Regions from separate parts of the Homo sapiens genome. Here region 1 is reported to be linked to region 2. The links are microRNA targets in miRTarBase. Many come from high-throughput screens and were not tested one by one. Region 2 holds a microRNA gene; the other region holds the end of a gene's coding sequence.

What was found. The annotated mature microRNA hsa-miR-4527 reads UGGUCUGCAAAGAGAUGACUGU and lies in region 2 at 2,841-2,862, opposite strand. An mRNA with a match to its seed (bases 2 to 7 or 8) in the 3' UTR can be bound and repressed. Matches are read on the target gene's strand: a 7mer-m8 pairs with bases 2 to 8, a 7mer-A1 pairs with bases 2 to 7 and ends in A, and an 8mer does both.
Region 1: the mRNA of BCL2L14 is a reported target of hsa-miR-4527. The part of its 3' UTR that is shown has no 7-base or 8-base seed match.

The regions. Positions count from the first base shown.
Region 1 is chr12:12,098,195-12,102,588 of GRCh38, forward strand. BCL2L14 (BCL2 like 14) reads left to right here. Exons shown (of 6, transcript NM_138723.2): 6 at 756-1,501. The coding sequence ends at 794. Among named protein-coding and RNA genes, the nearest start is that of MIR1244-4, 12 kb to the right of the region's middle.
Region 2 is chr18:47,378,971-47,383,364 of GRCh38, reverse strand. MIR4527 (microRNA 4527) reads right to left here and starts at 2,869; the gene lies at 2,800-2,869. The region is part of intron 1 of MIR4527HG (MIR4527 host gene); the gene reads right to left.

The DNA.
Region 1 (4,394 bases), not on the chromosome of region 2:
CTTCCATTGGCACCAAGTGTCTCGATGGCTCTCTCTGCTGTCCTTGTAGTAGTGTGGGAGGAGAGAAATCTAGTCCCATGCACAAGCTTTCCAGAAGCTCAGGGTTCCTATCTCAGTATTCCACATTTCATATGAGTACATCTCATCTTCCCAACTAAACTGCAAATCTGTAAGGGTGAGATCATGTTTTTATGATGGCTCCTTTAATCTCCCATAGCTCCCATTCCTCTACATAACACCATAGATGTTCAGCCAGTACTTGTAGAACGGTGAATGAATCGATCAAATGAATGAATAGCAACTCTATCTACAAGGCATGCCAAACAAGCTACCACGAGATTCTGATTTACTCCTTGGCTCTTTGTGCTCTCTGTGGAGCACCATTCACATAGTTACCCTGCAGTCCTGCAACCTCACCCATTCTGTAGCACTTTGAAAGGAGAGAGTTGTAACCTTCATAGTCATTGACCTTTCAGTACCCACTTTTATTACATTTTAAATACACCCTTGAAGCCCTCCCATCTTCAAGGAAAGATCCAGCCTGTTAGCTCTGGGTGTGTAACGTAAGACCTTAGCTGATGTCTTCCTTGCAGGCATACCAAGAATGCCAGTCACCTCTCCAAACCCTCCCCCAAACTAACATGGTCTCCTGAGCCTCGGGTCACGCCTGGGATAGAGCAGAGTTAGCAGCCATATGTTTTCACTTCAACAGTAAATCTAACTTGGAATTTTAAGAACCTATTTTTCCCCTCTAGGAAAAAATACTTGGGATATCACATGAAGAAGTAGACTGAAATATCAGATTTGTCATCAGGAATACTCTTTGTCTACTGTGGTCCTGTGCACGTTGGCCTCAGATGGACTACAGGAGATTACAACGTACAAGGCAGATGGAGCATTGACGTTTTCAAAACCATTATTCCTGTGACTGGAGAGGCATCAGGAGAGGTCTCGTTCGTCTCCAGCTCATAAAATGTAGCAGCATCATCCTTGACAGTGATGTTTTTCAGGCCCTCCATTGAGAACCTGAGGAAATCTGTAAAGATAAGTGGTGATGTTGTTTCAAACGTTCAGAACAGATACCATCATCCTGCCTTTGTTAGCTGCTGTAGGGAAAGTGCGTTACAGATGTCTGCTGACCTCACAAGAGTGAAAAGATAAACTGTGCATGTGTTTCCACTTCCGTTTCTAGTACTATTTATTTTTAAACTACACTTGGGGTGGCCTAATACCTAGGAAGATGTTGCTATTCACGTTAGTAAACAGCCTAAAGAAACTCTTAGGTTTACTGCTACATCCATTTGTTTGGAGAGGTAACTGTTGTCTGTGCCTTTTTGAAAAACTTCCATTTGGTACAAAATTTTTACTCCAACACCCCCTCAACCCTTTTCTCAGGGACCACACCTCTTCTTCCCAAGGTCCCTGGGACTTCCTCATTCTTTGTGGTAGTACAATGATTGGTAGCAGGTAAAATAAATACATAGAAAGACTACTGTCAAAAGAGTGTCTTCTGATTAGTAAGTAATAAGTCTTCTGATTATCAAATGAGTTAATTTACATAAAATGCTCAGAACACTTCTTGGTACTTAATGTTAAGTCTTCACTTATGGTCCCTAATGTGTGCTGCCCTCAGCTAAGCTGCCAATTTCCTCTCCTGTCAACGCAGTCACTGATTGCTTTCCTGAGATTGCGGCTGTTCGGTATAAGGTTTTTTAGAAACATGCTCAATAGTAAGTGTTTAAGACACAAAACAATTTAAAAAATACTATCAAATTATAAGGTCTTACAAATTTCTGGATATGTAGTACCCAGCATATGGCCTGATGTAAAACTGGTGCTTAATAAAACTTTGAAGAACAAACAAGTCAGTAAGTCAGACATACTCTCAGGTTCAAGGGAAAACTGGATCTATCTATTATCAAATGCTTCACTAGCCTACCCATCTCAATAAAATGAGTTATTCTCTTTTGTTTTCTTCTCCCACATGAAAGTCATCACTGTTAGGGATAGAGGAGTCTCCATTTTTTGTTTGTTTGTTTGTTTTGTTTTGTTTTGAGACAGACTCTCGCTCTGTCACCCAGGCTGCAGTGCAGTGGCGTGATCTCGGCTCACTGCAACCTCCGCCTCCTGGGTTCAAGCAATTCTCCTGTCTCAGCCTCCCAGGTAGCTGAGATTACAGGCACCCGCCACCATGCCCGGCTAATTTTTTTTTTTGTATTTTTAGTAGAGACGGGGTTTCACCATGTTAGCCAGGATGGTCTAGATCTCCTGACCTCGTGATCTGCCCGCCTTGGCCTCCCAAAGTGCTGGGATTACAGGCGTGAGCCACCACACCCAGCCAGGAGTCTCCTTTTAGACATGGAGACACTGAAGACCACCTCTTCCTCCATCCACTCTGATCTCGCCATTCCAAACTTTTTGCAGTTCCCCAAAGGTATTATGCAACCTGGCACCTCTGAGCCTTCATAACAGTATCCTCTCTACTTGGAGTGTTCTTGCATGATGGCTTCCTTTCCCCCTGTTTCCACTAAAACAACTAACTCTAGCTCATCTTTCCAAATTTCCTCAGTTTCCTCCAGGACTCATTTGCTAACCCTCCCTTGGCCATCATGTGGCTATATTTGGATGCCTTTTCTCATAAGATGCTCCAAATCACCCTGCATGTAGACATTATGCTTAATATATTGCACCGTAAGATTTGGTTTACCCAGTCTTTCTCAGTGGATTGTAAAGTCGTTTGCAAACAGGTACTATGCCTAATTTAACTTTATATATCTAGTGCCTGGCATAGTTTTGGCACACAGTTGCAGAACCATACCCTCGTCTGACTGATACAGCTTGTAAATCAGTATGACTGGAATATGCCCTAAGATATGTGTACTTACAACAAGCTCTCCATGTGTTTCCAATATCATCTATGGCTTGTGGTCAAGATGAAGTAACTAACGAGATTTAATCTCCTGCTTGAAACAACTAAAAAAAAAAAAAGACACTATAGATGAGAATGATTTTCAAGGCATTGGACATTAGGTAATTTTTTTTTTTTTTTGTATTTTTAGTAGAGACGGGGTTTCACTGTGTTAGCCAGGATGGTCTCGATCTCCTGACCTCGTGATCTGCCTGCCTCAGCCTCCCAAAGTGCTGGGATTACAGGCGTGAGCCACCGCGTCTGGCTAGGAGTCTCCTTTTAGAGAACTGGTCCCTGAGAGATGAGACTCTAAGTGAGCCCTATGTTTGCCCTAGAGTACTGCATGCAAAGAGTTTCTAGGTCATGCTGGAGAGAGGGGAACCCACGCAGAGTTCACCAGCTCCCTGAGTAGAGAGGATAGAGCTAGGAGTCCAGAAAGATCAGAGCAGCTGAAGTTTGCAAGTCTGATAAAGGATGAAAGAGAGAGGCACACAAAGCTCCAGAGACCTGCAGATATTTCCCCTTAGGTATTCAGATGAATACTGATCAAAACATGTGCATGAAGAAATTACCCAAGGCATGGGGAAGAACCACCTGAAAATATTAAAGGGAACGCTCTCCAAAGCCTACACAAGGCCATGAATACTGCCTATTTTGGCAATAGGTAGAATCCACAAAACAATTTTGTCTCAGAAGTGGCAAAAATTAGCCCTAGACTAAGCACTCTCTGGTTCTGCACAACCTAAAGATTAAGAGCAAAAACTTAAAGGATTAAACTGTTACCAAATAACTGAGCTGTGTTCTAGAACAAACGCAAGGATATCTATAGAATAATCAAAATATCCAGCATCCAACAAGGTAATATTCACAATGTCTAGCTTCTGATAAAAAATTATAAGGCATGCAAAAAAGCAGCAAAATGCAATCCATCATGAGAAGAAAAATCAGGAAAGCTAGAATGTTACAGATGATAGAATTGTTAGACATTAGAACTATTATAACTGTATTCCACATGTTCAATAAGCCAGAAGAAATATAACATGCAAAGTACACATAGAACTTATAAGTATGACTCAAACCAAAGTTCTAGAGATGAAATCTATAACATCTGAGATGAAAAACATGCTGGATTGGATTAATAGCAGATTAGACATCATAGAAGAATGGATAGGTAAACTTGAAGACATAGCAATAGATCCAAAATAAAAAACAGAAAAATAAGATTGAGGGAAAAAACAGCAATAGCGAATTGTGGAATGACTTCTAATGAATGGCCTATATATATAGGTATAATTGAAGTGAAGATTTTCCAAATTTGATGAAAACTATAAACCCACAGAACCAAGAAATTCTACAAATGCCAAGCACCAAAAACAGGGACAGGGAGAAAACTATGCCAAGGCACACCATAAATTGCTCAAAACCAGTGATAAAGAAAAAAAAAAGTCTTCCAAGCAAGCAGAGAAAAAGGCATATTATATGCAGA
Region 2 (4,394 bases):
CTGGAATGCCACTGTTAGCATGCCAGCCTATCAGGCCTCCAAGGATTTTTCAGTCTTCCAGATCTCCCTTGAAAATGCCATGTGCAGAACAAGGCTCACCCTGAAGGCATTATCTTGTCAGCTTGGTCCCCAATCTCACAACTGGCTATAAGAAAAATTCTAGGAGAAGGTTACAGATGGAGCTGTATTGGGGGATCATGAAAAAGGCTGGAAGTTCCAAAAGCAGACCACCTCTTCCCACAGGCAGTGGAAGGGCCTTTCCAAGTCATCGCATCACCAATGCCCCCTTGCTTCCTACTTGTCCCTTATGTAGGACCCCTCTCTGTTGCTGGGCTTATGGGAAGGAATTACTGTCCCCCTCATACAGCAATGGCTGAGAGGGCTTGGGGAGCTTATGCAGCCAACGTTAGGCCTACAGAGATGAGAGCCTCTTGACCAAGGTCTCCATGGTGGGTTAAGGGTACAGCCTCAACCAAAGTAACAACAGTGATAATAGCAGCTACCCTTTATCAAATCCCTCCTAAGGCCAAGTCCCATTCTAAGTCATTTAGCCCTCATAATGCCCTATAAGGCAGAGACTATTAATATTTCCCTTCTACAGATGAGGAAACTAAGGCACAGAGAGGTGAAGTTTCCCAGTGCCTTTTATATGGGCGCCTAGCTTATGGGCGCCCAGGCTGGAGCTCAGGCTTTGGCTGCAGGACCACTGTGAAGAACTCTGAGGCAACACTGCTAGGACACCCAGGTCTTTGGCCTCCTGGGCCCAGGTGTTGCCCCTTCACTAATTTTTCTAAGGCTGGCCCAGATCCCTGGTCCTAAATCTAAGCCTCATCCCCATGTCACCAACCCCTCAGGCCCTGAAGGCTCTGGAAGTTTCCCCTCCTTACCTTCCCCTCCTCCTACCTTCCCTTTCACCGAAAGAGAGAAGCTGCAGCAGAAAGGTGTCAGAGAAAGTGATGAATGGAGGCTGACCCCAGGGCAGAGCTCACGTGGCCCGCCTCTCTACCCCCATCGAATCAGCCCATCTCCCTCATACTCACCTGACAGGCAGGAAGCAGAGCCCCGGGGTAGGAGCAGGGGCAAGGCACGTCTCCTGGGGCCACCCCCACATCACTAGGGCAACTGGGCAGACTTCCTTGCCCCACCTACTCCTGGCCCCAGGTCACGGTCCCCACCCCTGCCAGAGCCCCTCGACTGGCTAAGCCATCCTTCAGGCCCAGCTGACACGTGCTTCCCGAGTGCTGGTGACAGGCGCCCAGCTGGAAAATAACGAACTGTGGAGATGGGGCAAAGTGCAGGTTCTCCTGCATCAGAAATGACAGCCTCGGCTAAAGCTGCAGGCAGGGTACCCTCACACAGGCGTGTATACACACATGCTTATACACACATGCACATTTGCTCACACACTCACTCCATCTTGGCTGCATGAATGGGACCCAGGAAGATGAAGTAGGTCTCAGCTTATAAGGGGTGGTGCCAACTGCCACTGCTCTCTCTGAAAGACGAGCACTAACAGCAGCAATTCCTTCCACATAGATTACATCCTACAGTTTGCAAAGCACTTCCACACCTGCTGGATCAACAGATAAGTAGGGGTGAAAAATGAACTGGACAGTCACTTTGAGGCTAAGGGGTCACACGCAAGCTGCTGAACCTCTTTGTGCTTCTGCTTTACCATCTGTACAAAAGGGTTACTAATAGCACCCGATAAAAGCCACAGGGACTGGGGAGTTAGGGCGGCTTCATTAAAAACCCAGAAGAGACCATTCAGTTCTGCCCCCGTCTGCTTCAGCTGCTGATGGCTGCAGCTTCCCAACTTCCTGGTGCTCTAAATTTATCACGTTCCACAGCAGCCACCCTTCTGAGCCGCCTGGGTGAACTCCTGGGCAGAGTGACACCAGCCCCGGAGAGACAGAAGAGGAGAAACCATGAATGCATACGCATGCACCACACAGGCGCGGCCACTGCAGGTCCAGCCTGTTTCCGATGTCTGCTGTCTCTGCTATGGGCTTGGTGCTGGGCAGAATTTCCAGCCTGCCACAAAGACTCCTGGCGTAAGAATGGGAAGAAATAAGGCCACAACTACAGAACTGCCAAGAAACAAACCCACAGCTCATTTGAGACAGCCAGTGAGAGCACTTAATGTACAAAAGTTAGTATGGAGATGCCAGCATGGGCTCATTCAGCCCATGTTCATTCAGCATATCCAGTCAACATCCCCTAAATACCTGCTACCTACCCAGCTCTGGGATGGGTAGCACAGGGTGGGCAGGAAATAAGAGGACGCCACTCAGGCAGGCCTGAGACATAGACAAAGGAGACAGAGATCTTCTCCAGCACCTGCCACCATGCCTGAAATTCCACCATCAGGAATGAAGGCTATGACCATCGATGCCCATGTTTGCCTATGTGCACATGATAGGGAGATCCGCCTCCTCTTTATGGAATTCTTTCCTTTTATAATGGTTATACATATGGACAGATGTTTAGAATGTCAGAAATGGATGGGACTTGGGAGAGCTTCTAGTCCTTCCATCTTCAAACAAACTCTAAGTCAACAGGTAAAATACACAGAAGTGGCACAGACACAATTGGGTTGGGATGGCAGTGAGTGAGGAGGGCTAACTCAGCCTCTTTAAACTCTCTTTGCTCATGATGTCTCCTGACTTCCCTCAGAGAATTTGGAAAGCACTTCTCAAGATATATCCTTATGATTAGGCTCAATTGCAAGCAACAAAGATTCTAAACATGGTGGCTTAAACAGAGTAGTGGTGTTTGTTCTTTTTGTTCCCGGAGAAGTCAGATGTAGGCAGCACAGAGCTGATGTGGATCTTGGATTCACAGTCATCTCTTTGCAGACCACTTCTGGCCTCTGCTTCACATCTTCATGGTCCAAGATAGTAGGCTTATGATTCCAGGCAGCTGGCTGGAGGAAATGACAGAAAAGAAAGTCTCCCAGAAGGTGCTGAGGACCCATTCACATCCCACTAGCCATGATGTACAGTCACATGGCCACATACAGCTGCACAGCCTGCTGGAAAATGTAGTTTTACTTCCAGGAGGCCATGGGCTCAGCTAAGAGCTCTATGACATGAAGTAGAGGGAGAACGACTATGAAGTTAAGCAATTGGTGATTACTGCTCTATCAGTTCAATCCTCTACTTTATAAGTAATTAAAATGAGGTGGTAGGATGATTATAATAAGATCATTGGTTAAGGTTGTAATGCCCAAGAGATTTTCCCCAATACCCAACATAAGGCTTGACTTAGACAAAAACAAAAAGATAAGCCCTTGTCTTCCCAGTGGGAAGGGAGATATGCCAGCCAACATTAACATGATAAATGATGTGACAAAACTAAGTGCAAAATAGAATGGGAATAACAACACAGAGCACCCAAATCTCTCTGTGAGGGTCCAAGGGGTCACTGAGAGAGAGTGCTTTGCAGCTGAGGCTGGATTAGTGTGAGAATTGGTGTCTGTTGAGTGGACAAGAATGGGGAAAGATAAGTCTGGCAAAAGGAACAGTGTGTGCAAAGGCCCAGAGGCAGGATAGTGGACCATTTTTGGAAGCTAAAAAGAGGTGCAATATTGCCAGAACATACAGGGCAAAGGGGGTGTGATGGTTAATTTCACGTGTTCACTTGGAAGGTGTTTTCAGATAAGATTAACATTTAACTTGTTGAACTTTGGGTAAAGCAGAGTGCCCCCAAGGCTTCAACATACATGCATATCCTATCGGTTCTGTTTATCTGGAGAAGCCTGACTAATGCAGGAGATGAGGTTGGACAGATAGGCAGGGACCAAATCCTGAATGGCCTATGTGCCATTCAAGGCCATTTCCATCTTACACCATAGAAAAGGGGGATTCATTGGAGACTTCTGAGCAAGATAGGGGTCAGACTTGGATGTAAATCATGGCTTAGGGGTGTGGTGGGGACTATGATAGACCAACATGTACTGTTCGTCTACCGTACGTGATAAGCACTGTTCTAGAAGCTTTAGAGGAGAGTGGTCAAGGCCAGTGGCAGGGAGACAGAAGATAACTGGATGTGCTAGTGGAAAGGTAGCAGAGGCAAAGGAGACTCCCAGGTTTCCAACTTTCACAGCTCCACAAGGACAGAGCCTGACTCTCTTGCCCATCCCTGCACCCCCGGCACTAGCACAGTGTCTGGGACTAGGCCTGCATAATTCTTTTTGGAATCCAGAATGAATAGCTAAAGAGATAAAGACTCTAACAAAGAAGGGTTGTAGGTCCAGCGTAACATTGTAAACAAATGGGTTCTCACTTCAATTCAAACACTTGTTGACTAACTGAATGAAGGGCCCAAGGATGTGAGATGCAGCCATGCCACCCGCATTGGCCCTATATGCCCTCCAATCTGATGAAGGTGCT